2 separate regions of the Homo sapiens genome follow, and region 2 is linked to region 1. Evidence: fine-mapped expression QTL. A gene starts in region 1. The other region holds a variant in brackets. All regions are shown on one strand. Distances are from middle to middle.

The links.
Region 2: its variant is fine-mapped to the expression of SGF29 in whole blood (INTERVAL, PIP 0.97).

The regions. Positions count from the first base shown.
Region 1 is chr16:28,545,575-28,561,658 of GRCh38, reverse strand. SGF29 (SAGA complex associated factor 29) reads right to left here and starts at 7,739. Exons shown (of 10, transcript NM_138414.3): 1 at 7,562-7,739. RefSeq lists a silencer at 7,311-7,430 and an enhancer at 7,451-7,770.
Region 2 is chr16:28,587,686-28,603,769 of GRCh38, reverse strand. SGF29 (SAGA complex associated factor 29) reads right to left here. Exons shown (of 10, transcript NM_138414.3): 5 at 14,606-14,670; 6 at 13,545-13,674; 7 at 13,328-13,474; 8 at 13,104-13,139; 9 at 12,835-12,997; 10 at 11,980-12,180. The coding sequence ends at 12,064. It overlaps SULT1A2 (sulfotransferase family 1A member 2), which reads left to right and starts at 6,720. Exons shown (of 8, transcript NM_001054.4): 1 at 6,720-6,773; 2 at 7,836-7,987; 3 at 8,095-8,220; 4 at 8,306-8,403; 5 at 10,202-10,328; 6 at 10,424-10,518; 7 at 11,327-11,507; 8 at 11,630-11,827. The coding sequence starts at 7,840. The coding sequence ends at 11,742. RefSeq lists enhancers at 2,438-2,952, 3,786-4,319, 4,320-4,854, 6,488-6,782. The variant C/T (reference allele first, on the strand shown) is at 7,895.

The DNA of each region.
Region 1 (16,084 bases):
GGTAACGCCCAGTACCCTAAACTTTTTGACTCCTAGCATGCTCGTGTTCCCACTGACTTAGAAGGCCACATCTTTTCTTTCTTTCTTTCCCCTGCACCTTTTGTGTTTTTTTGTTTTTTGTTTTTAGAGACGGAGTCTTGCTCTGTTGCCCAGGCTGGAGTGCAGTGGTGCGATCTTGGCTCACTGCAATCTCCACCTCCAAGTTTCAAGCAATTCTCCTGCATCAGCCTCCCAGGTAGCTGGGATTGCAGGTGCCAGCTACCGCACCCAGCTAATTTTTGTATTTTTAGTAGAGACAGGGTTTAACCATGTTGGCCAGGCTGGTCTCCAACTCTTGACCTCAGGTGATCTGCCTGCCTCAGCCTCCCAAAAAGTACTGGGATTACAGGCGTGAGCCACTGTGCCTGTCCAGCTAATTTTTAAACTTTTTGTAGAGATGGGGTCTCACTATGTTGCCCAGGCTGGTCTTTAACTCCTGGGCTCAGGCGATCCTCCCGACTCAGCCTCCCAAATTGTTGGGATTATAGGTGTGAGCCACCACACCTGGCCTGACGAAGTTTTAATAACTGCTTTAAATTTTTAAAAAAATTTATTTTAACTAATTATTTTGATTCTCTTTTAGAATTCTTGTCAGTTGATACCAACATCTGGGTCCTCTTGGGGTTGATCTTCGTTGATTGCCTTTTTTTTTTTTTTTTGAGACAGAGTCTTGCTCTGTCACCCAGGCTGGAGTGCAGTGGTGCGATCTCAGCTCACTGCAAGCTCCGCCTCCCAGGTTCACGCCATTCTCCTGCCTCAGCCTCCCAAGTAGCTGGGACTACAGGCACCCGCCACCACGCCCAGCTAATTTTTTGTATTTTTAGCAGAGACGGGGTTTCACCATGTTAGCCAGGATGGTCTCGATCTGCTGACCTCGTGATCCGCCTGCCTTGGCCTCCCAAAGTGCTGGGATTACCGGCGTGAGCCACTGCGCCGGGCCCGTTCATTGCCTTTTTTTGTAAACACAGATCATATTTTCCTGTTTTGTAAAAATATATTTTAAAATTTTCGTTCTTTTTTTTTTTTTTCTTGAGACAGAGTCTCGCTCTGTTGCCCAGGCTGGAGTGCAATGGTGTAACCTCGGCTCACTGCAACCTCTTCCTCCCAGGTTGAAGCAATTCTCCTGCCTCAGCTTCCTGAGTAGCTGGGATTACAGGTGTGCGCCACCACGTCCAGCTAATTTTAGTATTTTTAGTAGAGATGGGGTTTCACCATGTTGGTCAGGCTGGTCTCGAACTCCTGACCTCGTGATCCACCCACCTCAGCCTCCCAAAGTGCTGGGATTACAGGCGTGAGCCACTGTGCCGGGCCCATTCATTGCCTTTTTTTGTGAACACAGATCATATTTTCCTGTTTTGTAAAAATATATTTTAAAATTTTCGTGGTTTTTTTTTTTGAGTCAGAGTCTTGCTCTGTTGCCCAGGCTGGAGTGGTGGCACGATCTCAGCTCAACCTCCACTTCCTGGGTTCAAACAATTCTTGTGCCTTAGCCTCCTGAGCCTCCTGTGTACCACCACGCCTAGCTAATTTTTTTGTACTTTTAGTAGAGAAGGGGTTCTGCTATGTTGGCCAGGCTGGTCTCAAACTCCTGTCCTCAAGTGATCTGCCTGCCTCAGCCTCCCAAAGTGCTGTGCTGGGTTTACAGGCATAAGACACCATGCCCAGGCCATTTCTTGTGTCTAAGAATTTTGGATTATATCCTGGACATTGTAGATGATGTGTTGTAGACTCTGGATTCTGTTATGTTCTTGAGAGTTTGGTGTTTTGTTTCTGTTAACATGCAGTTAATCACAGCTGAACTCAAACTCCAAATCTAGCTTCCCTGAGGCAAGCATCAGCTGAAATCTGTACTGATCTTTTAAACTTGGCTAAGTTGCTTGGAATATGCCCCATGTTTGTCTAGTTCAGAGGTTTAGGCAGACTTTTTAAAATAACAGCTTAATGGGCCGGGTGCGGTGGCTCACACCTGTAATCCCAGCACTTTTGGAGGCCAAGGTGGGCAGATCACTTGAGGCCAGGAATTCGAGACCAGCCTGGCCAACACTGTCTCTACTAAAAAAGTACAAAGATTAGCTGGGTGTGGTGGCACACACCTGTAATCCCAGCTACTTGAGAAGCTGAGGCACAAGAATCGCTTGAATCCGGGAGGCGGAGGTTAAAGTGAGCCAAAATCGCACCACTGCACTCCAGTCTGGGTGACAGAGTGAGATTCCGTCTCAAAACAACAACAACAACAAAAACAGCTTAATGAAGATAATTCGCATGCCATACAATTCTCTATCTCTCTATCTACTTATTTGAGACAGGGTCTCACTCTCATTGCCCAGGCTGGAGTGAAGTGGTGTAATTACAGCTCACTGCAGCCTTGACTTCTTTGGCTCAGTCAATCCTCCTGCCCCAGCCTCCCAAGTGGCTGGGACTACAGGTGTGCACCACCACGCCCAGCTAATTTTATAATTTTCTGTTGAGATGAGGTCTCATCATATTGCTCAGGCTGGTCTCAAACTACTGGGCTCAAGCAATCTTCCTGCTTCAGCCTCCCAAAATGTGCTGGGATTAAAAATGTGAGCCACCGCACCCACCCCAATTCACTTTTTTAAAGTGTGCAATTCAGTGTTATGTTAGTCACAAGGTTGTGCAAATATCACCACTATCTAATTTTAGAACATTTTCACCAACTCTCCTTAAAACCTTATACTCATTAGCAGTCATTCCCCACCCCCTTCTCCTCTCAGTCACTGGCAGCCATTATTCTAATTCATATTTGTAGATTTGCCTATTCTAGACATTTCATATAAATAGAATTGTACTGTGACCTTATGTGACTTGCTTCTTTCACTTAGCATGTTTCCAAAGGTCATCAATGTCACAGCATGTATCAGTAACTTCATTCCTTTTTATGGTTAAATAACATTCCATTCTATGGATAGATGTCGTTTTTAATCCACTCATCTGTTGAAGAATTTGTGAAGAATTTGGAATCCCTTCTCTGGGGCTATCTTCTTTCCATCATGGGCTTTTTAATGCCTCATGACAAGGCATTTAACAAAACCAATAAACAGGCGGGTCGCAGTGGCTCATGCCTGTAATCCCAACACCTTGGGAGGCCAAGTACAGAGGATTGCTTGAGCCCAGGAGTTTGAGACCAGACTTGTCAACATAGCGAGGCTCTATCTCTACCAAAAATAAAAAGTACCCAGGTGTGCAGCCAGGCGTGGTGGCTCACACCTGTAATCCCAGCACTTTGGAAGGCCAAGGCGGGTGGATCATGAGGTCAAGAGGTCAAGACCAGCCTGGCCAACATGGTGAAACCCCATCTCTACTAAAAATACAAAAAAAAAAAAAAATTAGCTGGGCATGGTGGTGCATGCCTGTAGTCCCAGCTACTTGGGAGGCTGAGGCAGGAGAATCACTTGAACCCGGGAGGTGGAGGTCGCAGTGAGTCGAGACTGCACCACTGCACTCCAGCCTGGCGACACAGCGAGACTCCGTTTCAAAAAAAAAAAAAAGTACCCAGGTGTGGTGGTGGACTCCTGTAGTCCCAGCTTTCAGGAGGCTGAGGCAGGAGGATCTCTTGAGGCCTGGAGTTCAAGACCAGCCTGGGAAACACAGCAAGACCCCGTCTCTGAAAAAAAAAAAAAAAAAAAAAAAAAACAGAGAAAGAAAAACAGAAAATACTGGTGACATAATTTAGGCTTCTGGATAGAGTCCCATCTGAAACTGATTTACTCCAGGACTCTTCAGCTACAGTCTGTGAGGAAAAAACAAAACTTTCTCCTCTGCTGTCACAATATAGGATAATCAACACATAAGATTTCCGTGGCCAAATGTGTGGAGATTTCTCCCCAACACCAATCAATCCATTGAGTCTGCAGTGGATACACGCTGGATGTCCTCTAATTCAGTTTATTTCCAACACTATCCACCCAGACAGAGTGTCAAACCCCACAGGTTGAGGGCTCAGTCCCACGAGCATGTCCCCCCAATTCTCAATGCCAGTCACAAGCCCCCAGTTGCTTTATTTGTGCTTCTGACCAACTGACTATAAATCAGGGTTTCCATGACTCCCTCCTTGGGTTCCATTAATTTGCAGGAGCAGCTCTCAGCACTCAGGGAAACACTTAGGTTTACTGGCTTATTATAAAGGATGTCACAATGGATACAGATGAAGGAAGAGGTGCACAGGGCAAAGCATGTGGGAAGGAGCGAAGAGCTTCCATACCCACCCTGGGCACGCCACCCTCCAGGAAGCTCCAAACTGGGATACAAACCAGATATATATTTTACAATATCACAGAGTCAACAAACACCCCTTTCAGCTTAGGCTAGTCAGAGTAGCTTTTTGTTATCTGCAACTGAGTAGCTTGACTAATAAGAACTTTCATTAAGCACGGTCTGAAGAGATAGCCAATTCTGAGGGACAAAGGCTGCAGGGTAGAAGCATATGTTAACCACTAATACCCAGCCTAAAATTGCTGGCCCTTTTACTATAATAGCATAAAAGGCCTCAAATAAACAAATCCAAATATCCTACACTTAAGCCACTCTAAGATTAATCCCACAGGGCTTAAAACAGTAAGAGCTTTGTTCTGGGTCAAAGGGAAAGAGGAACCTAATACCCCACACTCACATCCCACACTCTCAACCCAGTCACTAGCAATGAGAATCTGCAAACTGGGTGCAGTGGCTCATGACCGTAATCCCAGCATTTTGGGAGGCCGAAATGGGAGGATCACTTGAAGTCAGGAGTTCAGGACCATCCTGGGCAACACACGGAGGCCCTGTCTCTACAAAAACAAAATAAAATAATTAGCTGGGCAGGGTGGTGCACATGTGTAGTCCTAGCTACTCAGGAGGCTATGGCAGGAGGATCACTTGAGCCCAGGAATTTGGGAATAATGAGCTATAATGGCACCACTAGGCTCCAGCCTGGGTGACAGAGTAAGACCTTGTTTCTAAAAAAAACATAAGTAGGTTGGGCGCAATGGCTCACACCTGTAATCCCAGCACTTTGGGAGGCCAAGGCCGGCAGATCAACTAAGATCAGGAGTTCAAGACCAGCCTGGCCAACATGGTGAAACCCTGTCTCTACTAAAAATACAAAATTAATCGGGTGTGGTGGCACATGCCTGTAATCACAGCTACTTGGAAGGCTGAGGCAGGAGAATCGCTTGAAACCGGAAGGCGGAGGTTGCAGTGAGCCATGATTGCGCCATTGCAATCCAGCCTGGGCAACAAAGAGTGAAACTCCGTCTCAAAACAAACAAACAAACAAACAAAAAATTAGCCAGGCATGGTGGTGCATGCTTGTAATCCCAGCTACTCAGGAGGCTGAGGCAGGAGAATCACTTGAACCCGGGAGGCAGAGGTTGCAGTGAGTTGACATTGCACCACTATACTCCGGCCTGGGTGACAGAGCGAGACTCCATCTCAAAAATAAATAAATAAATAAATAGAATCTATATTCATCAATTGGTTAAAGAGACATTAAGAAGACAATTTTTTTCCTTCATGCCTCTGTATTGCAACTTATGCCAGTGTTTCTCATTTAAACCTTACAGCAATCCTATAAAATAGATAACAGAATAGTAAGTATAGTGAAGAAACTGAAATTCAGATAGGTTATGCTAGGTAACTCAGGAAAAATAGGTAGTTGAGCTGGGGCTGCAAGGCTGCAAGTTCTAAAACCTATGCTCTTCCTCTGAATTCCAAGTTGTGTCACGACTTCAGCATATTCAATAGTAAAAGAGATCACAAAAGTGGAAGCTGCCAACCCACCATTAGGCTATTATGACAACACTCAAAGTATCACCAGTAAAATGATGATTGAGGCAACTGAAAAACAAAGCTAGGGAAATGTGATGGTTAACTTTATGTGTCAAACTGATTGGGCTAGGGGATTCCCAGATAGCTGGTGAAACACTTTAGAGTGTGTCTGTGAGTTTCCTGAGGGTTTGCTTTCCTGGGCTTCCAGCTTGCAGATGGCAAATCTCGGGACTTCTCAGCCTCTATAATAGTGTCACCCAATCCATCACAATAAATCTCTTTTAAAATAGCTATACAGTTGACCCTCAAACAATGCAGGTTTTAATTGTGCAGGTCCACTTATATGTGGATTTTCTTCCACCTCTAGAACTCTTTTTTGAGACAGGGTCTTGCTCTGTCACCCAGGCTAGAGTGCAGTGGCACGATCTTGGCTCACTGCAGCATCCACCTCCTGGGTTTAAGTGATTATTGTGCCTCAGCCTCCCAAGTAGCTGGGATTACAGGCGTGCACCACCACGCCCGGCTAATTTTTTAATTTTTTTTTTTTTTTTTAGAAGAGACTGGATTTCACCACGTTGCTCGGGCTGGTCTCAAACCCCTGAGCTCAGGCAGTCTGCCCACCTCGGCCTCCCAAAGTGCTAGGATTACACGCATGAGCCACCGCGCCTGGCCAGTATTTACATTTAAAATGTGAAACTGGGATTGCGGTGGCTCATGCCTGTAATTCCAGCATTTGGGGAGGCTTTGGTTAGGAGGACTGCTTAAGCCCAAGAGTTTGAGGCTGCAGTGAGCTGTAATAACACCACTGTTCTCCAGTCTGAGCAACAGAGAACGTGTCTCTAATAAAAACAAAAATGTGAGATGATGCCTAGGTTAGAATCAGCAGAGGAGAAGCCAGAGAGAGCAGAGGCAAAGGAAGAGAACGTTCAGCAAGCCAAATGAAAACAGTGTTTCAAGGAGGGGCAGTGATCCACAGCATCAAATGCTGAACAGGACTGAGACCTAACTTAACAATGCATTTGGCCACCTAGAGATCACTGGTGGCTTTGACAAGAAGCCTTTTTAGTGGAGTGGTGGAGACCAAAGCCTGACTAGAGGCTCAAGGGTTCAAGACTTGGAGGAGAAAAGGCATTAGTGAGGGTAGACTAAGGCCTTTGGCTGCAAACCGGAGCCGAGGAGGAGGTAACTGGAGGATAGCGAGGGTGAAGGAGGCTGTTTTGTTGTTCTTAAGACGGGCATTTTTTGGCCGGGCGCGGGGGCTCACGCCTATACTCCCCACACTTTGGGAGGCCGAGGCGGGAGGTTGAGCCTCCTGGGCAAACGACGAGCTGTTAGTGTATCTTGTTAAGAACTATATATATATACAAAATTTTTGTGCAAATCATAAAATAAGTGCTGGAGTTCGGGGCCCATCCTCTGTCCGCATCTTCGTGACCCGGGTCCGAGTACCCCACCTGGAAGCTGCGTCCGTGCCGAGCCCAGCGTGTCGCTGTTTCCCACCCTCGCCGGGGATGGAAGCACGCAAGCGCAGACCTCGAGCGGCCGGGCGCAGGGCCCGCCCTCCCCGAGCCCCGGCCCCGCCCTCCTCTCCCGCCCCCACCCCCACGAGCCCCGCCCCCCTCCCGCCCAGAGCGCGTGCGCACCGCCCCTAGAGCGCCGCCTCAGGGAGGTCGGGAGCCGCGGCGCGGAGGGAGGACTCAGCCCTTCGCTCCCGCGTTTCGCCGGAGGTCTCAGGCCACGGCCCGTCGCCACCTACCGAGTCCGGGACAAAACAAGCTCGTCGGGCTGGAAACTGCGACGAGGGGAGCAGGCGCGTTCCTCGAACCCTTTTTCGGAGTCTGCGGATGATCACAGACCTGCGTTCGAAGATTGGCGGCACGTCGAGAACCGCACACGCTTTTTTTTCCTTTTATGAGCGTAGTCGCGCGCGGAGGACCTTGCACGCATGCGTAGTCGTTCCTCTGTGACGTGACCCGCTGCCCCGTGGGAAATGTAGTTTTCACTTGGCACACCGCTCCGGCTCTTGGCGGAACCCTAATTTAACCAACCAAAGTGCTTGTGCGTTTTCAGCGTTTTCTCCCATTTCCCCAGACTCTATTTAAAACAAAATGCAATAAATAAATAAATAAATAAAACTTGAAAGCGAACAGATTGCTGCTTGCTGGAGGTGGGTGGGCGCAGGGGTAATATGAAAACTGTACTTTCTGCTCAATTTTGTTGTGAACCTAAAAATGCCCTAAAAAATAAAAGTCTGTTGTTAAAAAATTAATTAAAAACAGGCCGGGCGCGGTGGCTCACGCCTGTAATCCCAACACTGGGACGCTAAGGCGGGCGGATCACCTGAGTTCAGGAGTTTGAAACCAACCCGGCCAACATGGTGAAACCCCGTCTCTACTAAAAAATACAAAAATCAGCCGGGCGTGGTGGCGGGTGCCTGTAATCCCAGGTACTGGGGAGGCTGAGGCTGGAGAATCGCTTGAATTCAGGAGGCGGAGGTTGTAGTGACTGGAGATTGTACCATTGCACTCCAGCCTGGGTGACAAGAGGGAAACTCCATCTCAAAAAAACAAACAAACAAAAAACAAGCAGATCTTTAGACCCAGAAATCGCACTTCTAGGGAATCTTCTCAGGAAAGTACTAAGGATATGGACGTGCAATGGACATGTAGCCTCAATGGTATTTTATCGAAAGCCATCCTGGTATCTTAAAGTTTCTTACATAACCTACAAATGTCTGTAATTATTTGTTGATTATTTGATAAACTTGCAAGTCCTATGAGATTGGGATCATCTTGTGTTCACCTGTGTATTCCTAGTACCTAGCACAGTGCCTGGCCATCACATGTTTCTTTTTTTTTCTCTTTGAGACAGGGTCTCGCTCTGTTGTCCAGGTTGGAGTGCAGTGGTGCCATCAGGGCTCCTGAGTAGCTAGGACTACAAGCACACACCAGCACATTCTGCTGATTTTTAAATTTTTTTTGGTAGAGATGGGGGTCTTGCTATGTTGCATAGGCTGGTCTTGAGTTCCTGGGCTCAAGCGATCCTCCTGCCTCAGCCTCCCAAAGTGCTGGGATTACAGGCATGAGCCACCAACCTCAGCCCCGTCAGTATTTTTCTGTTTATTAGAGAATCTCAGGCGTTAGCACTGAAACTATGTTAACCCCAAAATTAATGCATCATTTTCTTCCATCACACTTGCAGTTCTTTCTGTGGGCGTCAGGTCAGTGAATGACATGCCCATCCACCCAGCTGCAGTTCTACTTACTGCCTTTTATGAAGGTTATGCTTTGAGGGATTTTGCAAATTTTGCATTTGTAAAGGTCTCAGGGGCTCTTTTTCCTGATTGTTAAATATCAGCCCTAGCTAGGCCAGGCGTGGTGACTCACGCCTGTAATCCCAGCACTTTGGGAGGCCGAGGTGGGCAGATCACGAGGTCAGGAGTTTGAGACCAGCCTAGCCAATATGATGAAACCATGTCTCTACTAAAAATACAAAAATTAGCTGGGCATGGTGGCACGCACCTGTAGTCCCAGCTACTCTGGAGGCTGAAGCAGGAAAGAACCACTTGAACCCAGGAGGCGGAGGTTGCAGTGAGCCAAGATTGCGCCACTGCACTCCAGTCTGGGCAACAGAGCAAGACTCTGTCTCAAAAAATAAATAAATAAAATAAATTTAAAAAATCAACCCTAGTCACTGATCAGGAGAGATGTAGAGCTTACAGTTGTTTTTTAAATTATTTTGGTCTCTGCCCTGTTTTAAAATTTTATCGTTAATTTCTGATTTTTCTACAATAAACATGTATTTATTAACTTTTTAAAAAGTGTTTTAGAGTGTTGTCCACATGTAAGGAATTGCTCTGTCTTCTCCACATCCACATTTCTCAAAAGAATCATCTATACTCAGTTTTCATGTCCCACCTCCTACTTAGTACAATGTCCTGAGCCAGCACCTGGGGGTTATCCCTGACATCACCCTTTCCCTCCCCTCCCTCATTCAATCCACCACGTGTCTGCAATATAAAAACACATTTGTTAGGCACTTGCTATGCACCGGGCACTGTTCAAAATCCTTTACACATATTCATTCATATAACACAATCCACCTACTTTTCACCTCCACCACATCCACCCTAGGCCAAAGTAGGGACATCTTCCCTAAACAACTGCAAAGGTTCTCTGTTTTTTAATCGCTGGTGCTAAGGTTGAGTTACTTATTTCTACTTAATGACACACTTCGTCATTGGGCTCTGCACGGCCTCTCTATTTATTTGTTATTTTAAAAATTTTTTTGAGACAGAGTCTCACTCTGTCACTCAGGCTGGAGTGCAGACGCGCGCCACGACGCCCAGCTAATTTTTTATATTTTTAGTAGAGATGGGGTTTCACCATGTTGGCCAGGCTGGTCTCAAACTCCTGACCTCAGGTGATCCACTAACCTCAGCCTCCCAAATTTCCTGGGATTACAGGCGTGAGCCAGCGCGCCAGGCCTCAGCCCTCTGCTTTCAACACCTGTCATTGTGGGCACACTTTACCTATGACTTACAGCAACCATGCAATATTTCGAAGTGGGCAGCAACATTTCAGTTATGATGGACCTGTAAGTTGCCTCCAACTACTACTGGCTACCACAAACAATGCCACAGTGAACAACCTCATGCTTATTCCCCTGCGGTCTATATGAAGATTTCTCTGAGATGTATGCCCACTAGTGAGACTGAGCAATGCCATCTTAAATGATCTCCCCTCATCTATTCGGGCCAGAGTGGCACATGCCTACAATCCCACTGCTTTGGGAGGCTGAGGCTAGAGGATCACTTGAGGCCAAGAGTTCAAGGCAACAGTGAGCTATGATTGTGCCACTGCACTCTAGCCTGGAAAACATAGCAAGATCCTGTCTCTACAAAAAAAATCTTTTTAATTAGCCAGGCGTGGTGGCATGCACCTGTAGTCCCAGCTACTACTGAAATTGAGGCAGGAGGACCGCTTGAGCCCAGGAATTCAAGACCAGCCTGGGTAACAGAGTGAGATCTCATCTCTACAAAAAATTTAAAAATTAGCCGGGCGCGGTGGCTCACACCTGTAATCCCAGCACTTTGGGAGGCCGAGGTGGGTGGATCACAAGGTCAGGAGATCAAGACCATCCTGGCTAACACGGTGAAACCCTGTCTGTACTAAAAATACAAAAAGTTAGCCAGGCGTGGTGGCGGGCGCCTGTAGTCCCAGCTACTTGGGAGGCTGAGACAGGAGAATGGCATGAACCCAGGAGGTGGAGCTTGCAGTGAGCCGAGATCGTGCCACTGCACTCCAGCCTGGGTGACAGAGCGAGACTCTGTCTCAAAAAAAAAAAAAAAAATTTAAAAATCAGTCCAGGCGGGGTGGCTCACACCTGTAATCCCAGCACTTTGGGAGGCCAAGGCGGGCGGATCACGAGGTCAGGAGATCGAGACCATCCTGGCTAACACGGTGAAACCCCGTCTCTACTAAAAATACAAAAAATTAGCTAGGCGTGGTGGCAGGTGCCTGTAGTCCCAGCTACTCGGGAGGCTGAGACAGGAGAATGGCATGAACCCGGGAGGTGGAGCTTGCAGTGAGCCGAGATCGTGCCACTGCACTCCAGCCTGGGTGACAGAGTGAGACTCTGTCTCAAAAAAAAGTAAAAATCAGGCCAGGCGGAGTGGCTCACACCTGTAATCCCAACACTTCGGGAGGCCAAGGCGGGTGGATCCCCTGAGGTCAGGAGTTTGAGATCAGCCTGGCCAACATGGTGAAACCCTGTCTCTACTAAAAATACAAAAATTAGCTGGGCGTGGTGGCGCATGCCTGTAATCCCAGCTACTTGGTGAGGCTGAGGCAGGAGAATCGCTTGAATCCAAGAGGCGGAGGTTGCAGTGAGCTGAGATGGTGCCACTGCACTCCAGCCTCATAAAAAATAAAAATAAAAAAAATTAGCCGAGTAGTCCCAGCTACTAGGGAGGCTGAGGCAGGAGCATCGCTTGAACCCGAGAGGCAGAGGTTGCAGTGAGCTGAGATTGTGCCACTGCACTCCAGCCTGGGTGACAGAGCAAGACTCTGTCTCAAAGAAAAAAAAAATCAGCCGGGTATGGTGGGGGACAGGGAGGTGGGGCATGAGGATCACTTGAGCCCAGGAGGTTGAGGCTGCAGTGAGCTGTGAATACGCCGCTGCACTGCGCTCCAACCTGGACAACAGAGTGAGACCATTTCTCAGAACACACACACACACGCGCGCACACACACAGCTCTCTCAGGATCTGACCTCCCATGGCAAAGAGGAAATTGTAACTATTCACAATTTAATGGTTTTTGTCCCCGCTGCAGGCACACGTAGCCATATCATGACCAGAAGGTGGCATAGTGTGCCTGCAATCCAAAAGGAAAAAGATGAAATACATTAACTCTTAAATGTTGCCTTTTTTTCTGATATACATTGTGCAAAAGTCCAACACTACAGAGATCTGGAGTCCATAAAGGAGAAAGTAAAAATTATCCAGAACCCCAGTCTAGGATATAACCACTTTGGAGAGTTTGGTTTACATCTCATTGCCCCCCCTACTTTTATTTTCAATAATGAAAATAATTTTTCTGGCCAGGTGCGGTGGCTCACGCCTGTAATCCCAGCACTTTGGGAGGCCGAGGTGGGGGGATCACCTGAGGTCGGGAGTTTGAGACCAGCCTGGCCAACATAGTGAAACTCGTCTCTACTAAAAATACAAAAAAAAATAGCCAGGCGTGGTGGCCCGCACCTGTAATCTCAGCTGCTCAGTACTTGGGAGGCTGAGGCAGGAGAATCGCTTGAACCCAGGAGGTGGAGGCGGTGAGCCAAGATCATGCCGCTGCACTCCAGCCTGGGGGACAGAGTGAGACTCCGTCTCAAAAAAAAAAGAAAAAGAAAAAGAAAATAATTTTTCTTGCAAAAATGGGAGCACAGATGCACCGTTGCGGAGGGCGACAATGATGTCTGGGCTCGCTTCATTCTACATGGGTTGGGGCATGGGGTAGGGGGGCACGGCCCCTTGGCCCGAGGTGGGAGGGTAGGGGACGGTGTCTGTGGCCCAGGGGTGGGTGGGGTGGGACAACGCATTGTTTTCAGGGCACTCCGTCTACACCCGTTACACTCCGCAGCAAAGCCGTCCCAGGTCTCCACCCACCACCCCACCCATCAGGACACCAGGAAGACGCACTTGACCTGCAAGAGACTGTTTGAATACATCTTCCCTAAGAGGATGGACTGATGCTGCAGGCTGGACAAACCGCCAAGCTGAGCTCCAAGGTCCCCCTGACTGAGCCCTGGGATCCTCTTGACCTTCAGCAGAACTCCACCTTTGAAGTCCGGTACCCACCAGGCGGCTGGATGAGCGTGCCTCCATGCAGGGGCGCTCAGGCAGAAAGTCAGCCAGAGCAGATGAAACCTGAATTGTTATCCCAACCAAAAATTACAGCACGATGTTGCCCTCCCTTGTTTTTTTGACATACACCTGGGTGTTAAAGACCCCTCCATGTTGACCCCGTGGGGCATGGGCCAGACAGCCCAGTGGAGGAGACGACCAGGACCAGCCCTGGTGAACGTGAAAACCCAGAAGTGACGGCATTGGACATCAGATATCAGTGACCCCAGCTGGAAACAGATTTGATATTTGAGAATTTTCACTGGAGCTTAAATATGATAAGTTTAGGACGGTAGACATTTTTATGGGTTTTTTTGTAAGTATGATCTTGACTAATCAAACTGTCTATAAAAGAAATTGAATGGGCTGAATCAATGGCTAATATGGATACCTCAGGGGTTTTTGTGTGGTTTTTTTGTTTTGTTTTGTTTTGTTTTGACAGGGTCTTGCTTTGTCACCCAGGCTGGAGTGCAGTAGCACAATCTTGGCTCGCTGCAACCTCTGCCTCCCCGGCTCAAGCGATCCTCCCTCCTCAGCCTCCCAAGTAACTGGGACTATGGGTACACACCACCACACACAGCTAATTTTTGCTTTTTGTGTGTGGTGGGTTTTTTTTTTCTTCTTTTTTTTTTTTTCAGACAGCTCCTTGCTCTGTCGCCCAGGCTGCAGTGCAATGGCACGATCTCGGCTCACTGCAACCTCCACCTCCTGGGGTTCAAGTGATTCTCCTTCCTCAGCCTCTTGAGTAGCTGGGATTACAGGTGCCACCATGCTGGGCTAGTTTTTGTATTTTTAGTAGAGACAGGGGTTTCACCATGTTGCCCAGGCTGGTCTGGAACTCCTGACCTCAAGTGATCTGCCTGCCTAAGCCTCCCAAAGTGTGGGGATTACAGGCATGAGCCACCGCTCCCGGTCTTAATTTTTGTATTTTTTTGTATAGACGAGGTCTCGCCATGTGGCCCAGGCTGGTCTCAAACTCCTGGGCTCAACCAATGTGCCCTCCTCAGCCTCCCAAATTGCTGGGATTACAGCGTGAGCCACCACGCCTGGCCTCGTTTTTTTTTAACAGTGCTAAGAGGTAAGGAGGACTCCCTAGGAGCAGTTCGCAGTGGCAGGGAGGCATATTTTATTACTGACATTGTTGAGAATTGATAGTGATAATAAAAGGCAGAATGATTTGGATCAGTTTAATTATTAAGTTCTTTATAGACAGCCTGGATCAGGGTAGGGGACTGCTCCCACTGCCCTGTCCCAAAATGCTCCCTTAAAATTATTTCCAGATATTTAAGAGCTTTATGGCATGACCCAATTGCTATAAAAATTTTAACTTGAAGGAAAATCTATACTATAAAGTAATCGTTTCTTTAAAGATACATTTTAAGCAAGAGGGTTTGGAAAAATCTTTATGTCTACACCTGGTAAGCACAAGCCATGTATATTCCGTTTTTCTTTCTTTCTTTCTTTCTTTGTTTTTGTAAAAAAAATTTGTTTTGAGCCAGGGTCTCACTCTGTTGCTCAGGCTGGAGTGCAGGGGCGCAATCACCGCTCACTGCAGCCATGACCTCCCCAGGCTCAGGTGATCCTCTGGCGTCAGCCACCTGAGTAGCTGGGACCACAGGCACGAGCCACCACACCTGGCTAACTTTTGTATTTTCTGTAGAGATGGGAATTTCGCCATGTTGCTCAGGCTGGTCTCAAACTCCTGGGGTCAAGCCATCCGCCTGCCTTGGCCTCCCAAAGTGCTGGGATTACAGCACCAGGTCCAGCCATTTCCTTTTTTTCTATGCAAGAGTATTGATATATGTACTGAATCATCCCATACTTGCCAATGTATGTGATCACATACTTATCTTGCTGGGATCACAGGCAAGAGCCACTGCGCCTGGCCCAAGTTTACTTTTTTTTTTTGGAAATGGAGTTTTGCTTTTGTTGCCCAGGCTGGAGTGTGATGGCGCCATCTCGGCTCACCGCAACCTCCGCCTCCCGGGTTCAAGCGATTCTTCTGCCTCAGCCTCCAGAGTAACTGGGACTACAGGTGCCCACTACCACGCTGGCTAATTTTTTGTATTTTTAGTAGAGACTGGGTTTCACCATGTTGGCCAGACTGGTCTCGAACTCCTGACTTCAGGTGATCCACCCGCCTCGGCCTCTCAAAGTGCTGGGATTACAGGCATGAGCCACCACGCCCGGCCCCATGTTTACTTTTATAGTCCCAGCACCAAGCAAGTGCCTGGCACATGGTTAGTACCCTAAACATTTGCAGACTGGAGAATGCATGCCTCTCTGGTCTTTACTTTCCTCTTCTGTTAAATGGGGTCGGGTTTGCTGATCTCCCAGAAGACATCAGTAATAAAATTTATTATTTTAGATTTTTTGCTTCTTTCTTTTCTTCTTTCTTTCTTTCCTTCCTTTTTTTTTTTTTTTTTTTTTTTTTTTTGTGTGTGTGTGTGTGTGACACAGAGTTTCGCTCTTGTTGCCCAGGCTGGAGTGCAATGGCGCAATTTCAGCTCACTGCAACCTCCACCTCCTGGGCTCAAGCAATTTTCCTGCCTCAGCCTCCCAAGTAGCTGGGATTACAGCCATGTGCCACCAAGCCCGGCTAATTTTGTATTTTTAGTAGAGACGGGGTTTCACCATGTTGGTCAAGCTGATCTCAAACCCCTGACCTCAGGTGATCCACATGCCTTGGCCTCCCAAAGTGCTGGCATTACAGGCATAAGCCACCGCGTCCAGCCTTATTCTAGGTTTTTCTACTACTGTGTTTTATGTGGCTGTCTATTTTAGTTGTCAGGAGAAAATGTCACACCTCTATTATGGTGAAAACTGTGTATTACTCATAGTTATCTATACATTTAATGCAAAAATATAATTTGTAGT
Region 2 (16,084 bases), 42 kb before region 1:
ATTAGCTCGGGAGATGAGGACAAGGGGGACAGAGCAGGAAGAGGACCCCTAGCTTCTCTGATCAGCCTGTTCCTGGTGTCACCAATGACCTCTCCCCTGGAGGCTGCTTTACCCGCTGTAGGGGCGCATGGATCAGGGCACGGTAGAAGCAGGTGGTCTGGGGTTACAGGGCCAACATGAGCTGCTCCTTCTGGAACAAGGCCTTGGGGTCCATCTGGGGGTTGGCCTTCCACTGATGCCATGACTGCCAGCTCATGGTGTGTCTCCTGGCAGGTTGTGTCAATCTGTCTGGGGACACTCTGTGATACCTGGGTTCTCGTCCTCTTGGGTTAAAATAAATTAAGTAGGCGGTGCGCAGTGGCTCACACCTGTAATCCCAGCACTTTGGGAAGCTGAGAGGGGTGGATTACCTGATGTCAAGAGTTCAAGACCAGCCTGGCCAACATGACGAAACCCTGTCTCTACTAAAAATATAAAATTAGCCAGGCGTGGTGGTGAGCCCTATCATCCCAGCTACACAGAAGGCTGAGGCAGGAGAATCGCTTGAACCCAAGACTCAGAGGTTGCAGTGAGTCGAGATTGTGCCACTGCACTCCAGCCTGGGCCACAGAGTGAGACTCCATCTAAGATAATAATAATAATAATAATAATAATAATAATAATAATAATAATAATAAATAAAATGATTTAAACAAGAGACACACAGCAAAAGAAGTGGAGCATAGAATAACTTATTGCAAAAGAAAACAGTATATTGAAAGTTAATTGCAGAATAGACAATACACCTTGAGCGAGTTCAGAAGGGACTGCTTGTCAGGTTGGGACGGTGTTGATTACTGCAGGAAAAACTCCCTTTATGGGAGTCTCACACAACTCTTCATAATGGGTGGGAAGAGGCATCACTAGTAAGCATGTTCTGGGTGGTCCTCTGGGTGCACATGCGCATTTGCTATACATGCTTGCTCCTAGGACTCATGTCTCATTAGCATCTTAAATCTCCACCCAGGGGTATGGTTTTTACTATTAAAATGAGCAAAGTGTCAGTTTGCTGACCCTTTGCACATGTTCTCAAAAGGGAAAGTCCCTACTGGAGATCGCTTTGCTTGAATGAGCTCAGTGACCAGGTGAATGCCGAGGCTTCCTGTGTTGGCCGTGCTGTCACCAAGGTCACAGCATCCTGAGAACATGGTTTTCTCCTTGACTAACAAGGCCTCGGGGTCTGTCTCGGGGTTGGCCTTCCACCGGGTCAGCGGGATGATCCGGCGCAAGCTCACGGTGTGTCTCCTGGTGGTAGAGGGGCTTGTGTCAACCTGTGGCCGGGTGGGGATGCTCCTTCCCAGCTGGTAGGCTGCCCCCAGGCTCCATGCCCTGCCCTGGCCTGGACACTCACGCTTTGCCTTCTTCATCAATGTCATCTACCTCATACCTGTGGACAAAAGGAGGAAAATGCAGGATGCAGCCAGGGGCACAGTCCCTGTAGGGGAGTGTGGAGGACAGGGGCAGGGCGAGGACCCGGTGCTCCCTGCACAGCCGGCCCCGCCCACAGCACGCTCTGTGGAGTTTTTCTCCTGCTGTGCAGATGAGAAGCAGAGTGGCAGCCCAGGCAGGTGCAGTGACCAGAGAGCAGCCCTGGGGCTGTTGGAGGAGCCCCTGGGAGCCTCCATCTCCCGAGTGAGCCCAGCAGGACTGTGACCCGTTCGGCCAGGTGTCCTACAGGGGCTGCTGGGCTCAGCTACAGATGGGCGAGACCGCAGCATAGTGGGCGCCCAGCGGGAAGAACCAGGGAGGGACAAAGTGAGTTTGCAGGTGCTGGAGAGGCTCTCTTCTTGATGTCGGTGCTGAACCAGAAGTGTGTTTAAGGAGAATTTCCTAAAATTCAAAGAGTTCCACGGGAGTCGCGGCTAGGCCGGGGCGCTTCTTCAGCATCTACCTGCTCTAAGGCCTGAACCCCCGTCATCAGGGCCACGTTTATATGGGGTTCACTGTCAGCCCTGCTTGTCAGGTCCAGCAGCACAATGGGGACCACACAAAAGGCAGGGCCCAGGCCTGGCGCGGTGGCTCAAGCCTGTAAACCCAACACATTGGGAGGCCAAAGCGGTTGGATCACTTGAGGTCAGGAGTTCGAGACCAGCCTGACCAACATGGTGAAACCCCGTCTGTAATAGAAATACAAAAATTAGTCGGGCATGGTGGCACGTGCCTGTAATTACAGCTACTCGAAAGGCTGAGGCGGGAGAATTGCTTGAAAGATGGGGCAGGGGGCAGCGGCAGAGGTTGCAGTGAGCCAAATCGGGCCATTGCACTCCTGGTGAGACCGGAAGGGTCTCTGTGCCAGGAGGAAGGCTTCCTGGAGGAGGCGGACCCCGCTGGGCACAAGCCTGATGAGAGGGAGGGGCATGCCTGTGACATGGGTGGGGAGTCCAGGGTGGGGACGGGACTGTCACAGAGGAGGAGCATGACGGGGAGACAGTGCCCTGGGAATCTTGGCGGTGGAACTCCGGGGAGGAGCTGGCTGGGGCGGAGGTGATGATCCAGGATGCGGGCCAGCGTAGGGGTCTTGGTGGGCATGCTGGGGTCGGATGGAGCGCAGGAGGGAGAGGAGGGGGGACAGGTGGGTACCTGGGCTGGAGGCGCGGCCTGAGGTGGGCAGGTTCAGGGGGCGTGACTTCATTTAGGGGCAGGGCCTGGGGCTAGGCTGAAGCCGGCAGTGAGGACCCCGCTCTCGGGTGGAATTGGAGGGGACCCGCGGTTGGGCGCGGCAGGGCTCACAGGGACACCCCCGTTCTCCTCCCCAGGGAGAAAGTGCTCGTCGTGCACGGCTTCCCGCCCGCCGTGGCAACCCTTCGGGTAAGGAAGGAGACCAGGCGGCGGCAGGCGGGCAAGGGCTTGGGGTCCGCCCCCCTGCCTGGAGCCGCCCTAACTCCTCCGTATCCTGCCGCTGTTGGAGTGGGCCTGGAACCCCCTCCATAGGCGCGCCTCCTACTCCCGCTGCACCCCGACCTCCGCCGGGACCTCTATGCGCCGCGCCGCACGGGCGATGGCCTTCGGGCCTCCCCGGCCCCAGGGCACCGCGCAGGTCCCTTTGCTGGCACCAAGCCCGAGCCTGAGCCGGACCCGGGGCCCAAGAGGCCTGTGCGCCCTGCGAGCCCTTGAGCTCCAGGGGAGGTCCGCCCCAGGCAGGGCGGCTCATCCCCCAGACCACTTCGGATCCAGCTGTTTGTTGAGGAGCCAGGAAACGCCCTGACACTTTTGCGGCCCTGTCCCCGTCTCTAAGATGGGGATGATAGTATTTCTGGCCATTCCTGAGCACAGCAGGACCTGCCTTTTCCCTTTGACTGGAAGGTTCTTCTCTACACCTATCTTGATAACCTGCCACCTCCACAGGGAGGTCTTCTCTATCTCCCGATTTAAAATTGCAGCTCTGAGAAGCCGGGCATGGTGGCATATGCCTGTAGTCCCAGCTACGGGGGGAGGCTGAGGTGGGAGGATCGCTTGGTCCCAGGAGTTGGAGGCTGCAGTGAGCTCTGATCGCTCCACTGCACTATAGCCTGGGCAAAAGAGCAAGAAACTGTCTCTAAAAATATAAAATAAAATTGCACCTCTTGTGTACTTCCCCGTCTGCTTCTTTACCTGAATACTTACTATCTCACCGGCTAGGTGCTTTATGACTCTCGTTAGTCTCTCCCACCCCAACCTTTGCACTACATTGCCCGAGGGCAGCTCTTGTCACTGCTGTAGAACAAAGTCCTGCACAGAGACGATAGCCAAGAAATAGTTAATAAAATAATGGAAAACGGGTGCCTTCTACTGAGCACCCGCTAATAGTGAGTGAGTAGAGGACTTGCCCTGGGGACATTCAGTGACCTGCTGGGTGTTGCTGAGCTGTGAGGAAGTTCAGGTCTGGCTGCAGTGGTGAGGCTGTGACTCAATCAATCACTGCTGATGCTCCCAGGACCTGCACCAGCTTAGTCCCAGGGGCAAGGATTTTAAACCCCCACCTCCATTTCCTCATCTGTAAGATGCAAATAACAGTCACCTCTGCCTCACGGGATGGAGCTGTGTAATGCCCGGAACAGTGCCTGCTGCATAGAGGGGTTGCTGCCAGCTGCCTCTCCCTCCTTGTCTCTTACCTGCCTGCTGCCTGGGACAGGATGAAGCGGGGCCCTTGTGTTGCCCCAACCCTGGCTGTTGGCTAAGAGCCCACGTGATCTGCCTGTGAGAGGAGTTCCTTCCGGAAGAACCAGGGCAGCTTCTGCCCCTAGAGGGCCAATGCCCTAGCTGAGTGCAGTCCCCCGGCCCCAGCCTGGTCCAGCTTTGGGAAGAGGGTGCCCAGTTGTGCAATCCAGGCCGGGGCAGCCGTGTCCTGATCTTGGTATTCAGGGCTGAGCCTGGAGGGGGCTTGTGATGCCTGACTCTGTCTCTCTCTCTGGCCCCATGCCTTGGTAGCTGTGAGGCGTCACTGCTTTGGGTGACCTGATCTGGCTGTGATGGATGAGCACGGGGGAAATAGTGGAAGACTCGGAATTAGAAGACGTGAGTGGGCTTTGGCCCCAGCCTCCCTACCCCACTCCCTGTCCTGGGCTGCCTGTGACCAACCTTGTTTCTGCAGGCACACTGGATAGCCCTGCTGGAGCTCAGTGTCCCTAATCCCCTCCAGATACTGGTGGCCTAGGGGAGGTCATCAAAGACCGGTGGGACATCGACCTCAGCCCGTTTCCACGCTTTTTTTTGTTTTGTTTTGTTTTTTTGAGACCGAGTTTCACTCTTGTTGCCCAGGCTGGAGTGCAATGGCGTGATCTTGGCTCACCGCAACCTCCGCCTCCCGGGTTCAAGCGATTCTCCTGCCTCAGCCTCCCAAGTAGCTGGGATTACAGGCGTGTGCCACCAGGCTTGACTAATTTTCTATTTTTAGTAGAGACAAGGTTTCTCCATGTTGGTCAGGCTGGTCTCAAACTCCCGACTTCAGGTGGTCTGCCTGCCTCGGCCTCCCAAAGTGCTGGGATTACAGGAGTGAGCCACCGTGCCAGGCCTTCTCCAGGCTCTTGGCACCTTAGCCAGAAACAATTTAAGGACAAGTGCAAAAGTCATGAACGTAGGCAGATTTCCTGCAGAGTAAAGGGACTCACTGAAGAAGAGGAACGTGGGGGTCCTCAAGAGAGTGTCTCATGCCCTACAAGGTGTGGGGCTGACCTTTATGGGCTTCTTCAACTAAAGAGGGGTATATTCATGAAGATTCCAGGAAAAGGTAAAGATTTCTCAAGACCGTGGTGCCACAATTTACACCCAAATACAGGTGTTCCTGGAGCCGTCTTGGCACTGGTGGGTGTACGGTTTCATATGTTACTGATTGTACAGTGAGATCCTAGGTGAAACCTACATCAAATACAGCGCCATGTTGCTTCTGGTTGGTCGCAGCCAGCTTGGTCCTCATCCTATTTTTCAGGGACTTATTGGCCCTTGGCACATGCAGCTATTTCAAGTTTCCTTCTTCTGGTCATGTGAAACTGCTGCCTGGGATTTTCTGTTGTCTTGCTAGCACTCTATTAATCTCACATTCTCGCCTCTTTTCTGTGCCACCCCCTGCTGGTCCGGCTGGTTTTCACTAGAGTGCAATACAAAGTCTCAGTCAAGAGGGCCTCCTGAAGGTTGCTGAGGGCAGGGGTGGAGCTAGTAGCCGGAGGACCTGCCAGTCATGGGGATTCCTCAGGGGCACAGAGGAGGGAGGAGGGGCCTGTGGCCCTAGCAGGGGAGCAGCCTCTCCTCTGCCTGGAAATCCCATGCCTCAGTTTTCCCCGCTTGCCTCTGAGCTCACGCAACCCTGGGAAGGCTTGGGAGACTCACCTTTACTCAGATGGTTGTTTACCTGTCTCGTGCCCAGCTTGACCCTGGACTTTAAATAGTGAGGACAAAGAACGAGGAGGGTGGGGGGATGCACTCCTTCCACGGGGCCCTGTGGCTTCCAAGCCTCAACCTCCTCTGGCCTCTGTCTGTGGAGCCTCCTTCAAACCCATGGAAAGAAAAGTACCTGCCAGGGGCTGTGGTTCTTCTAGGATCTTCTATCGATGTTCTGTGAGGTCCCCAGGGAGCCATGAAGCTGGGGCTGGCTCCCAGGGCAATGGGACTGCAGTGTCCTTGTTCTTTCTTGTTCTATGGATCCATGCTCTGCTCCACCCCTGCCCCTTCACTCTGCCCACACGCATCACTCCAGACTGGCCTTGTGGTCAGAGCCTGGAGTGCATGGGCTGCTGGAGGCCTGTGGGTTGCACTGGGCCAGGACCCCTGGCACCTTCAAGACTGGCCTGGAGCCAGCAGGTAGGTGACCTTTCCAGGGCCTGCCTATCCCATCTTTCTCCTCCAATCCCTCCCCTCTCTTGCCTGGGTCAATTAGAGAAAGCTTGTCTTTTGGAGTTCAGGGGCAGGTCAGGAGCCCAGTGACAGCTCAAAAAAAAAAACCCACAAAAACAAACCCACCATTGGGCCCTTTCCCCTTTCATTCTTCTGTTTTCTACACACCAAACCCAGTCGTGGCTTTGGAGATCACTTTAAGCTTGTCTCCAGCTGGCAAACTAAGGAGGGTAATAGAGAAGCTCCCCCACCCCCAACCCTACCCCTTCCTTCCGGAAGCAAATCTAAGTCCAGCCCCGGCTCCAGATCCCTCCCACACTGACCTAAGAAACCCTCAGCACAGACAACACCCCTGCATTCCCCACACAACACCCACACTCAGCCACTGCGGGCGAGGAGGGCACAAGGCCAGGTTCCCAAGAGCTCAGGTGAGTGACACACCGGAATGGCCCAGGACGCCCTCACCCTGCTCAGCTTGTGGCTCCAACATTCCAGAAGCCGAGGCCTCTGCTATCCCTGCCCTCTCCCCATGGATATCCCATTTCAGACAACCCCGGCCGGCCTGAATCCCCCTCCCTTCCTTTTTTTTTTTTCCGGGGAGGCCAGGTCTTGCTGTCACCGAGGCTGGAGTGCTGTGGGATCCTGGCCACTGCAGCCTTGAATTCCTGGGCTCAAGTGATTCTCCTGCCTCAGTAGCTAGGACTACAGACCCTCACCATCCTGCCTGGATAGTTTTAAAAAATATTTTTAAAAGATTTTTAGAGATGGGGTCTTCCAATGCTGCCCAGATTGGTCTCCAAATTCTGGCCTCAGCCTCCCTAGGGTCTGGGATTACAGGTGGGAGCCACCCTGCCCAGGATCCTCCTTTTGCTGAGTCATCACAGTTTTGCTCATTCCCACATCAGGCTCTGGCCCCCAATACCAGCTCAGTTGCTCAATGGGCTGTTTGTCCTGGAGCCCAGATGGACTGTGGCCGGGCAAGTGGATCACAGGCCTGGCCAGCCTAGGAGTTGCCACATGTGAGGGGCCGAGGGGCTCAAGGAGGGGAACATCGGGGAGAGGAGCCTACTGGGTGGAGGCTGGGGGTCCCAGCAGGAAATGGTGAGACAAAGGGCGCTGGCTGGCAGGAAGACAGCACAGGAAGGTCCTAGAGGTTCCTCAGTGCAGCTGGACTCTCCTGGAGACCTTCACACACCCTGACATCTGGGCCCCGCGCCACGAGGGTGCTTTCACTGGTCTGCACCATGGCCCAGGCCCTGGGATTTTGAACAGCTCCGCAGGTGAATGAAAGGTGAGGCCAGGCTGGGGAACCACCACATTAGAGCCCGACCTGGTTTTCAGCCCCAGCCCCGCCACTGACTGGCCTTGTGAGTGCGGGCAAGTCACTCAGCCTCCCTAGGCCTCAGTGACTTCCCTGAAAGCAAGAATTCCACTTTCTTGCTGTTGTGATGGTGGTAAGGGAACGGGCCTGGCTCTGGCCCCTGACGCAGGAACATGGAGCTGATCCAGGACATCTCTCGCCCGCCACTGGAGTACGTGAAGGGGGTCC[C/T]GCTCATCAAGTACTTTGCAGAGGCACTGGGGCCCCTGCAGAGCTTCCAGGCCCGGCCTGATGACCTGCTCATCAGCACCTACCCCAAGTCCGGTAGGTGAGGAGGGCCACCCACCCTCTCCCAGGTGGCAGTCCCCACCTTGGCCAGCGAGGTCATGCTCACCTCAGCCTGCTCACCTCCCATCTCCCTCCCTCTCCAGGCACCACCTGGGTGAGCCAGATTCTGGACATGATCTACCAGGGCGGTGACCTGGAAAAGTGTCACCGAGCTCCCATCTTCATGCGGGTGCCCTTCCTTGAGTTCAAAGTCCCAGGGATTCCCTCAGGTGTGTGTGTCCTGGGTGCAAGGGGAGTGGAGGAAGACAGGGCTGGGGCTTCAGCTCACCAGACCTTCCCTGACCCACTGCTCAGGGATGGAGACTCTGAAAAACACACCAGCCCCACGACTCCTGAAGACACACCTGCCCCTGGCTCTGCTCCCCCAGACTCTGTTGGATCAGAAGGTCAAGGTGAGACTGGGCACAGTGGTTCACACCCGCAATCTCAGTACTTTGGGAGGCTGAGGTGGGAAGATCCCTTGAAGCCAGAAGTTCCAGATAAGTCTCTTCCAAAAAAAAAACTTAGCTGTGCATAGTGGTGTGTGCCTGTAATACCAGCTACTCAGGAGGCTGAGGTGGGAGGATCATCTGAGCCTAGGAGTTTAAGGCTACAGTGAGCTATGATCACACCAGTGCACTCCAGGCTGGGTGACAGAGAAACACTGTCTCAAAAAACGATGAATAGAAAGAGTGTCCCACCAGTGCGGTGGCTCACACCTGTAATTCCAGCACTTGAAGAGGCTGAGGCAGGTGGATCACCTGAGACTAGGAGTTTGAGATCAGCCTGGCCAACATGGCAAAACCCCATCTCTACTAAAAATACAAAAAAATTAGCCGGGCATGGTGGCAGGCATCTGTAATCCCAGCTACTTGGGAGGCTGAAGCAGGAGAATTGCTTGAAGCTGGGAGGCAGAGGTTGTAGTCAGCCGAGACCTCACCATTGCACTGCAGCCTGGGAAACAAGAGCAAAACTCTGTCTCAAAAAAAAAAAAAAAAAAAAAAAAAAAGCGGCAGGTGGCAGGGGGCTGGGCCTGTTGTGGCTCACGCCTGTAATACCAGCACTTTCGGAGGTCGAGGTGGGCAGATCACCCAAGGTTAGGAGTTTGAGATCAGCCTGGCCAACATGGAGAAACCCCGTCTCTACTAAAAATACAAAAATTAGCCAGGCGTTGGGGCAGGCGCCAGTAATCCCAGCTACTCGGGAGGCTGAGGCAGGAGAATAGCTTGCACCTGGGAGGCGGTGGTTGCAGTGAGCCGAGATTGTGCCACTGCACTCCAGCCTGGGAGACACAACGAGACATTGTTTCAAACAAAACAAATAAATATTTTAAAAGGTTTGCCACCTGGGTGGCTCACCGCTGTAATGCCAGCATTTTGGGAGGCCAAGATGGGTGGACCGCTTGAGCTCAGGAGTTCCAGACCAGCCCAGGAAACATGGGGAGACTCCATCTCTATAAAAGATGCAAATAATCAGCAGGGCATGGTGGCATAGCGCTATAGTCCCAGCTACTCAAAAGTCTAAGGTTGGAGGATTGCTTGAGCCTGGGAGGTCAACGTTGCAGTGAGCTATTCTCACTCCAGTGCACTCCAACCTGGGCAACAGGAAAAAAGAAAGCCCAAGGTCTTTTTTCTCTTTTCTCTTTTTTTTGAGACCTAGAGTCCCCCCCCCCAAAAAAAAAAAAAAACCACAACAAAAAGAAAAAAGCAAAGGTCCAGGTGTGGGGCATGTGAATCCAGGGAAGGAGGCCCCGGCTCAGCCCAGCTTTGGTCCTGTTCTTCTGGGAGAGTCGCCTCACTTCCTCCAGACTTGTCTCATCTTCCACGGGGGGGACTGTCTGCCTTTTGCTCTGATGACCAAAAACATGAGACTCTTCCGGGTAGACCTAAGAAAGGTAGAGGGTGGGTCCTCACAGGCCCACAAAATTTGGTGGTGGTGGGAACATGCCTGGTGGAGCATGCCTTGCTCCAGATCGGGGTGTGACGCATTGATGCAGATTATATTACTATAGAATATGATGGTCTCAGGGACCAGGCAGGACTTTGGCTTTTGAGCAGGGTTCAGATCCTGACTTGGCCCTACCTGTGCCGTGAGATCTCAAACAAGTCAGCCTCTAAGCCTCAGCTTCCTCCTTTGCCAAACCAAGAGATGAGCTGGCCTGGGGCAGGCTGTGTGGTGATGGTGCTGGGGTTGAGTCTTCTGCCCCTGCAGGTGGTCTATGTTGCCCGCAACGCAAAGGATGTGGCGGTTTCCTACTACCACTTCTACCACATGGCCAAAGTGTACCCTCACCCTGGGACCTGGGAAAGCTTCCTGGAGAAGTTCATGGCTGGAGAAGGTGGGCTTGATGGGAGGAAGGAAGGTGTGGAGCTAAGGGGTGGTGGCTACAACGCACAGCAACCCTGTGTCGGCACTCCCTGCCCGCTTCTCCAGTGTCCTATGGGTCCTGGTACCAGCACGTGCAAGAGTGGTGGGAGCTGAGCCGCACCCACCCTGTTCTCTACCTCTTCTATGAAGACATGAAGGAGGTGAGACCGCCTTTGATGCTTCCCTCCACGTGACACCTGGGGGCAGGCACTTCACAGGGACCTGCCAAGGCCACCCAGCCACCCTCCCTGGGCGGCCCCTCCAGCAGGCCCGGATTCCCCATCTTGACTCCCTGGCCCAGGCCCCACTGCAGCCCCATGTGGCAGCAGGCTGGGCACAGCTCTCATCTCCTGTGCCTGAGTCAGCTGCACGGGTGGCCATGGATCAGCTACTTTTTTTTTTGAGACAAAGTCTTGCTCTGTTGTCCAGGATGGCATGCAGTGGTGTGATCTCAGCTCAGTGTAACCCCCCCTCCCAGGTTCAAGTGATTCTCCTGCCTCAGCCTCCTGAGTAGCTGAGATTACAGATGCACACTACCATGCCTGGCTAATTTTTGTGTTGTGCCATGTTGGCCAGGTTGGTCTCCATCTCCTGAGCTCAGGTGATCCGCCTGCCTCAGCCTCCCAAAGTCTTGGGAATTACACGCCTGAACCACGGCCCCTTGCCACAGATCAGCTATCTATTCCAATTGCTTCTCCCTGCCAATGGTTATGCCACCCAGGGCCACAGGCACGGAAGAAGACCATCCCAGTCCTTACCCATAGGAGCCAAGCCCAGCTCATGATGGGATCACAGGGCAGACAGCAATTCATTTTGCCCCAGGGACTGGGGTCCCAGGGGTCGAGGAGCTGGCTCTATGGGTTTTGAAGTGGAAGTGGCCAGTTCCCCTCTGAGGTTAGAGAAGTGGACCCCTTTTATTTTCCTGAATCAGCAATCCAAGCCTCCACTGAGGAGCCCTCTGCTGCTCAGAACCCCAAAAGGGAGATTCAAAAGATCCTGGAGTTTGTGGGGCGCTCCCTGCCAGAGGAGACTGTGGACCTCATGGTTGAGCACACGTCGTTCAAGGAGATGAAGAAGAACCCTATGACCAACTACACCACCGTCCGCCGGGAGTTCATGGACCACAGCATCTCCCCCTTCATGAGGAAAGGTAGGTGCCGGCCAGCACGGGGGTTTGGAGCAGGTGGGAGCAGCAGCTGGAGCCTCCCCATAGGCACTCGGGGCCTCCCCTGGGATGAGACTCCAGCTTTGCTCCCTGCCTTCCTCCCCCAGGCATGGCTGGGGACTGGAAGACCACCTTCACCGTGGCGCAGAATGAGCGCTTCGATGCGGACTATGCGAAGAAGATGGCAGGCTGCAGCCTCAGCTTCCGCTCTGAGCTGTGAGAGGGGTTCCTGGAGTCACTGCAGAGGGAGTGTGCGAATCAAGCCTGACCAAGAGGCTCCAGAATAAAGTATGATTTGTGTTCAATGCAGAGTCTCTATTCCAAGCCAAGAGAAACCCTGAGCTGAAAGAGTGATCGCCCACTGGGGCCAAATACGGCCACCTCCCCGCTCCAGCTCCTCAACTTGCCCTGTTTGGAGAGGGGAGAGGGTCTGGAGAAGTAAAACCCAGGAGACGAGTAGAGGGGGAATGTGTTTAATCCCAGCACGTCCTCTGCTGTCCTGCCCTGTGTCGTTGGGGGATGGCGAGTCTGCCAGGCGGCATCACTTTTTCTTGGGTTCCTTACAAGCCACCACGTATCTCTGAGCCACATTGAGGGGAGGGGAATAGCCATCTGCATAGGAGGTGTCTTCAAACAGGACCGAGTAGTCATCCTGGGGCTGTGGGGCAGGCAGACAGGAGGGGCTGCTCAGAGACCCCCAGGCCAGGACAGGCACCCCCTTCCCCCAGCCTAGACCACAGGAGGCTCTGGGCCGTGGACTCTCAGCCACTCCTAACATCCTTCACTCTGGGGTCAAGAAGTCTTGGCCCAGTCCCTGCTGCTACAGAGCTCTTTTCTCAGTGGCTGGAGACCCAAGGCAGGGAATAGGCAGGGAGGAGTAGGGGTGCTGACTCCCTTCCTAGTGGGGTCATAGCTGGAGGGTCTGCTGCCTTTCAAGGACTCTTTGTTGAGAGGACTGAGGGCAACCCAGAGGGTGGCAGGCAGGGATCCTGGCCTCAGGTGGCTTGTGTCCCATGTCACCAAGAGCACAAGGCGGTAGGAGCCCAGGGCTCAGGGCAGGAGCTTCCCATCTCGGAGCTGGTTCTCCTGGGGCTGGAAGCCACTGACTCGGGGCTTGCCAAGGCTGCCAGGGCTGGCAAAGGGATGGTGGCCTTTGGGGCTGGAGTGGAAGAGGGAGGGCAGCTGGTGGGTCCTGTCAGCTTGGAGCCTGTGAGATGAGGACAAAGGGAAGGAGTGGGGAGAGGACCCCTCGTCTGTCTGATCAGCCTGTTCCTGACATCACCCATGGCCTCTCCCCTGGAGGCTGCTTTACCCGCTGTGGGGGCGCATGGATCAGGGCGCGGTAGAAGCAGGTAGTCTGGGGATACAGGGCCAGCACGAGCTGCTCCTTCTGGAACAAGGCCTCAGGGTCCGTCTCCGGGTTGGCCTTCCACTGGGGCAGCGGGATGACACGGCGCCGGCTCAGGGTGTGTCTCCTGGGGGAAGAGGGGCTTATATCAACCTGTGGCCGGGTGGGGATGCTCCTTCTCAGCTGTTAGGCTGCCCCCAGGCTCCATGCCCTGCCCTGGCCTGGACACTCACTCTTTGCCTTCTTCATCGATGTCATCTACCTCATACCTGCAGACAAAAGGAGGAAAAGGCTGGATGCAGCCAGGGGCGCAGTACCTGTTGGGGAGTGAGGATGGGGGAGGACCTGGTGCTCCCTGCACAACCAGCCTCTGGGGAGCACCCTCTGCAGAGCTTTTCTCCCGTAGCCCAGGCAAGTTCGGTGACCAGAGAGCAGCCCCAGGGTTGGTGTCACTCACTTGTTGGTGGCATGGCTGTAACTGACCACCTCGGCCAGGATCCACTGCTCGTCCCCATCCACGGCCTTCACCCGGGCAGCCACCTTGTCTCCAGGTCTGGCCACGTAGTCTCCTGAGGCAGGGATGGCCCCACAGAGGGGTGGGGGCCTGTGAGTGGAACAAAGGGTCAGTCCCAGCCCCTGGGCACCAGCCCCTCCCTCGCAGCTGCTGCCCTCACTTGTCACCAGGCTTCCCGATCCACAGGGGCAGGGTCATGGCCGACTGCTGCAGCAGGGTCATCAGCACCCCTCTGCGCATGGTCTTCCGGGGTGGCTCCGAGTCATTGTAGAGACCGGCAATCTTGGCCGCTGTGGGAAGGAAGGGAGGCCTGAGGCCCCAGGGATAGGTGCCGGCCTTGACCCCCGAGCATGCTGCACTGAGCTGTTGAAGGAGCACCTGGGAGCCCCCAGTTCCCGAGTGAGCCCGAGGGCCCAGCAGGACTGTGACCCCATCGGCCATGTGTCAGCACCTATAGGGGCTGCTGGGTTTAACTACAGTTGGGTGAGATGGCAGCACAGCGGGGATCCAGGGGGAGGAACCAGAAGAAAGAAAGCGGGTTCCAAGGTGCTGTTCAGGCTGTGTTTGCTGATCTGAATGCTGGTTACAGAAGTGTGTTCAGTTAGTGACTATTTCATTGAACTCTGCACTTATGTGTACTTTTCTTCTATTAATATACATTGTAATTCAACAGAAAGTTAAAAAAACCAAAAAAAAAATTAAATGTGCACCTTCAACCTCCTCAGGCACAGCTGGACACCCCACTTGACTTCACACAGAACCAGCATGGCTGTGTGGGGACACTGACATGCCAAGATTCTGCCCACCATGGGATTGTTGGGAGGGCAGACAGGTAGGAGAGCCTAATGCAGGCTGAGGGGGTCTGGAAGGCTGGCTTTACGACACACAGCGTGTGGCTCTGCAGAAACCAGCCAGGGCAACAGATGGGCATGGGCCATGGCAGAGGAGGGGGCGACTGGCCCAGGCCCCAGAAGGGGCAGGAGATGAGGGGCCAGGGCGGGATGATCTCTGGCTGCTGAGGGAGAACTGGGAAACCCCTGCCTCTGGGCACTGGGAATGACCTCCTGTCCCTTCTCAGTGGTAGAGCCAGTCTGCCAGAGCCTCCATGGGAGGATGCCAGCAGGTGGTGGCCACAGGCCCCCACAGGAGGGTGACTGCTGCCCGCAGGGCCTCTCCTCTTGTCCTAGCAAAGGACCTCCCAGCATGTTCTCTCCCACTCACCAATCCGCCTCTCTTCCAACAGAGACTTGATTTCCGCGATCTTGTCCAGAGCTTTCCGAAGGATGCTGAGGGCGGGGAGAAGGGAGAAAGAGGGTTTGGTTAACGTACATAGCATAGACTTCTCTTCCATTTTTTCTGTTTTGGGTCAAGCTACATTGCCCAGGCTGGTCCCGGACTCCAGAGGTTCTCACAGTAGCCTCCTGCGCAGGTGGAATGACAGGTGTGTGCAGGTTCCTGTTCTGGTCAAGGTGGGCTGGGTTATTCAGACCAACCTCATGGTGAAACTAGAAATCTGCCCGGGTGTGGTGGTTCACGCCTGTAATCCCAGCACTTTGGGAGGCCGAGGAGTGTGGATCACCTGAGGTCAGGAGTTCAAGACCAGCCTGACCAATATGGTGAAACCCCGTCTGTATTAAAAATACAAAACTTAGCCAGGTGTGGTGGCGAGCGTCTTTAACTGTAATCCCACCTACTTGGGAGGCTGAGGCAAGAGAATCGCTTGAACCTGGGAGGCAGAGGTTGCAGTGAACCGAGATCGCGTCATTGCACTCCAACCTGGGCAAAAAGAACGAAACTCCATTTCAAAAAAAAAAAGAAAACTGGAAATCTTCAGTATGTGTCTTTTAGTCTTAAGAACATAAAAAACAAGGTGGTAGAAAGCAGCATGCCAAAAACTAAGAGAACACAGGATCCCAGAGAGGAAAGGACACAGGCAAACTGCCTTCGGCAAACCCTGCAGAAAGGCTGCAGGAACCTCCTGAAATGAGGAGAGGGGGCCTCAGGTCTGCCCGAGGGTCACACAAAAGGAGGGGAGACTCTGGGGAGAGGTGCTGGCCCAGAGCAGAACTGGGTGGAAGGACCTCATCCTTTCTGAAAGGCTGAACCCAAAGACAGACCCCTGCATGGCCTTGAAGCCCCAGGAAGCCTCTGTGAAGTTAGTTTATGGGGATTCCAGGGTGGCAGGAACCCAAAGAACCCAGCAGAAGCAAACACAGAACTTGGCTGGAGTGAGGCTCCTTCATCCTAAAGCTCAGGGAATCTTCCCAAAGAGTATTTCCACAGCAGGGATGGGTGTGGTGGCTCACGCCTGTAATCTCAGCACTTTAGGAGGCTGAGGCAGGAGGATCACTTGAGGTCAGGAGATCGACACCAGCCTGGCCAACATAGAGAAACTCCTTCTCTACTAAAAATACAAAAATTAGCCCGGCGTGGTGGCGGGCGTCTATAATCCCAGCTACTTGGGAGGCTGAGGCAAGAGAATCGCTTGAACCTTGGGGGCAGAGCTTGCAGTGAGCCGAGATTGTGTCACTGCACTCCAGCCTGGGTGACAGAGCGAAACTCCATTTCAAAAAAAATACGTATTTCCACAGTAGTCAGCAGCACAAACTCCACTTTGGGTCATTTTATTTTCCTCTGATACCATGGCAAACCCCAGTCCATTCCTCTGGCAAGCCTTTCTGAAATGACCCGGAGTTCTAA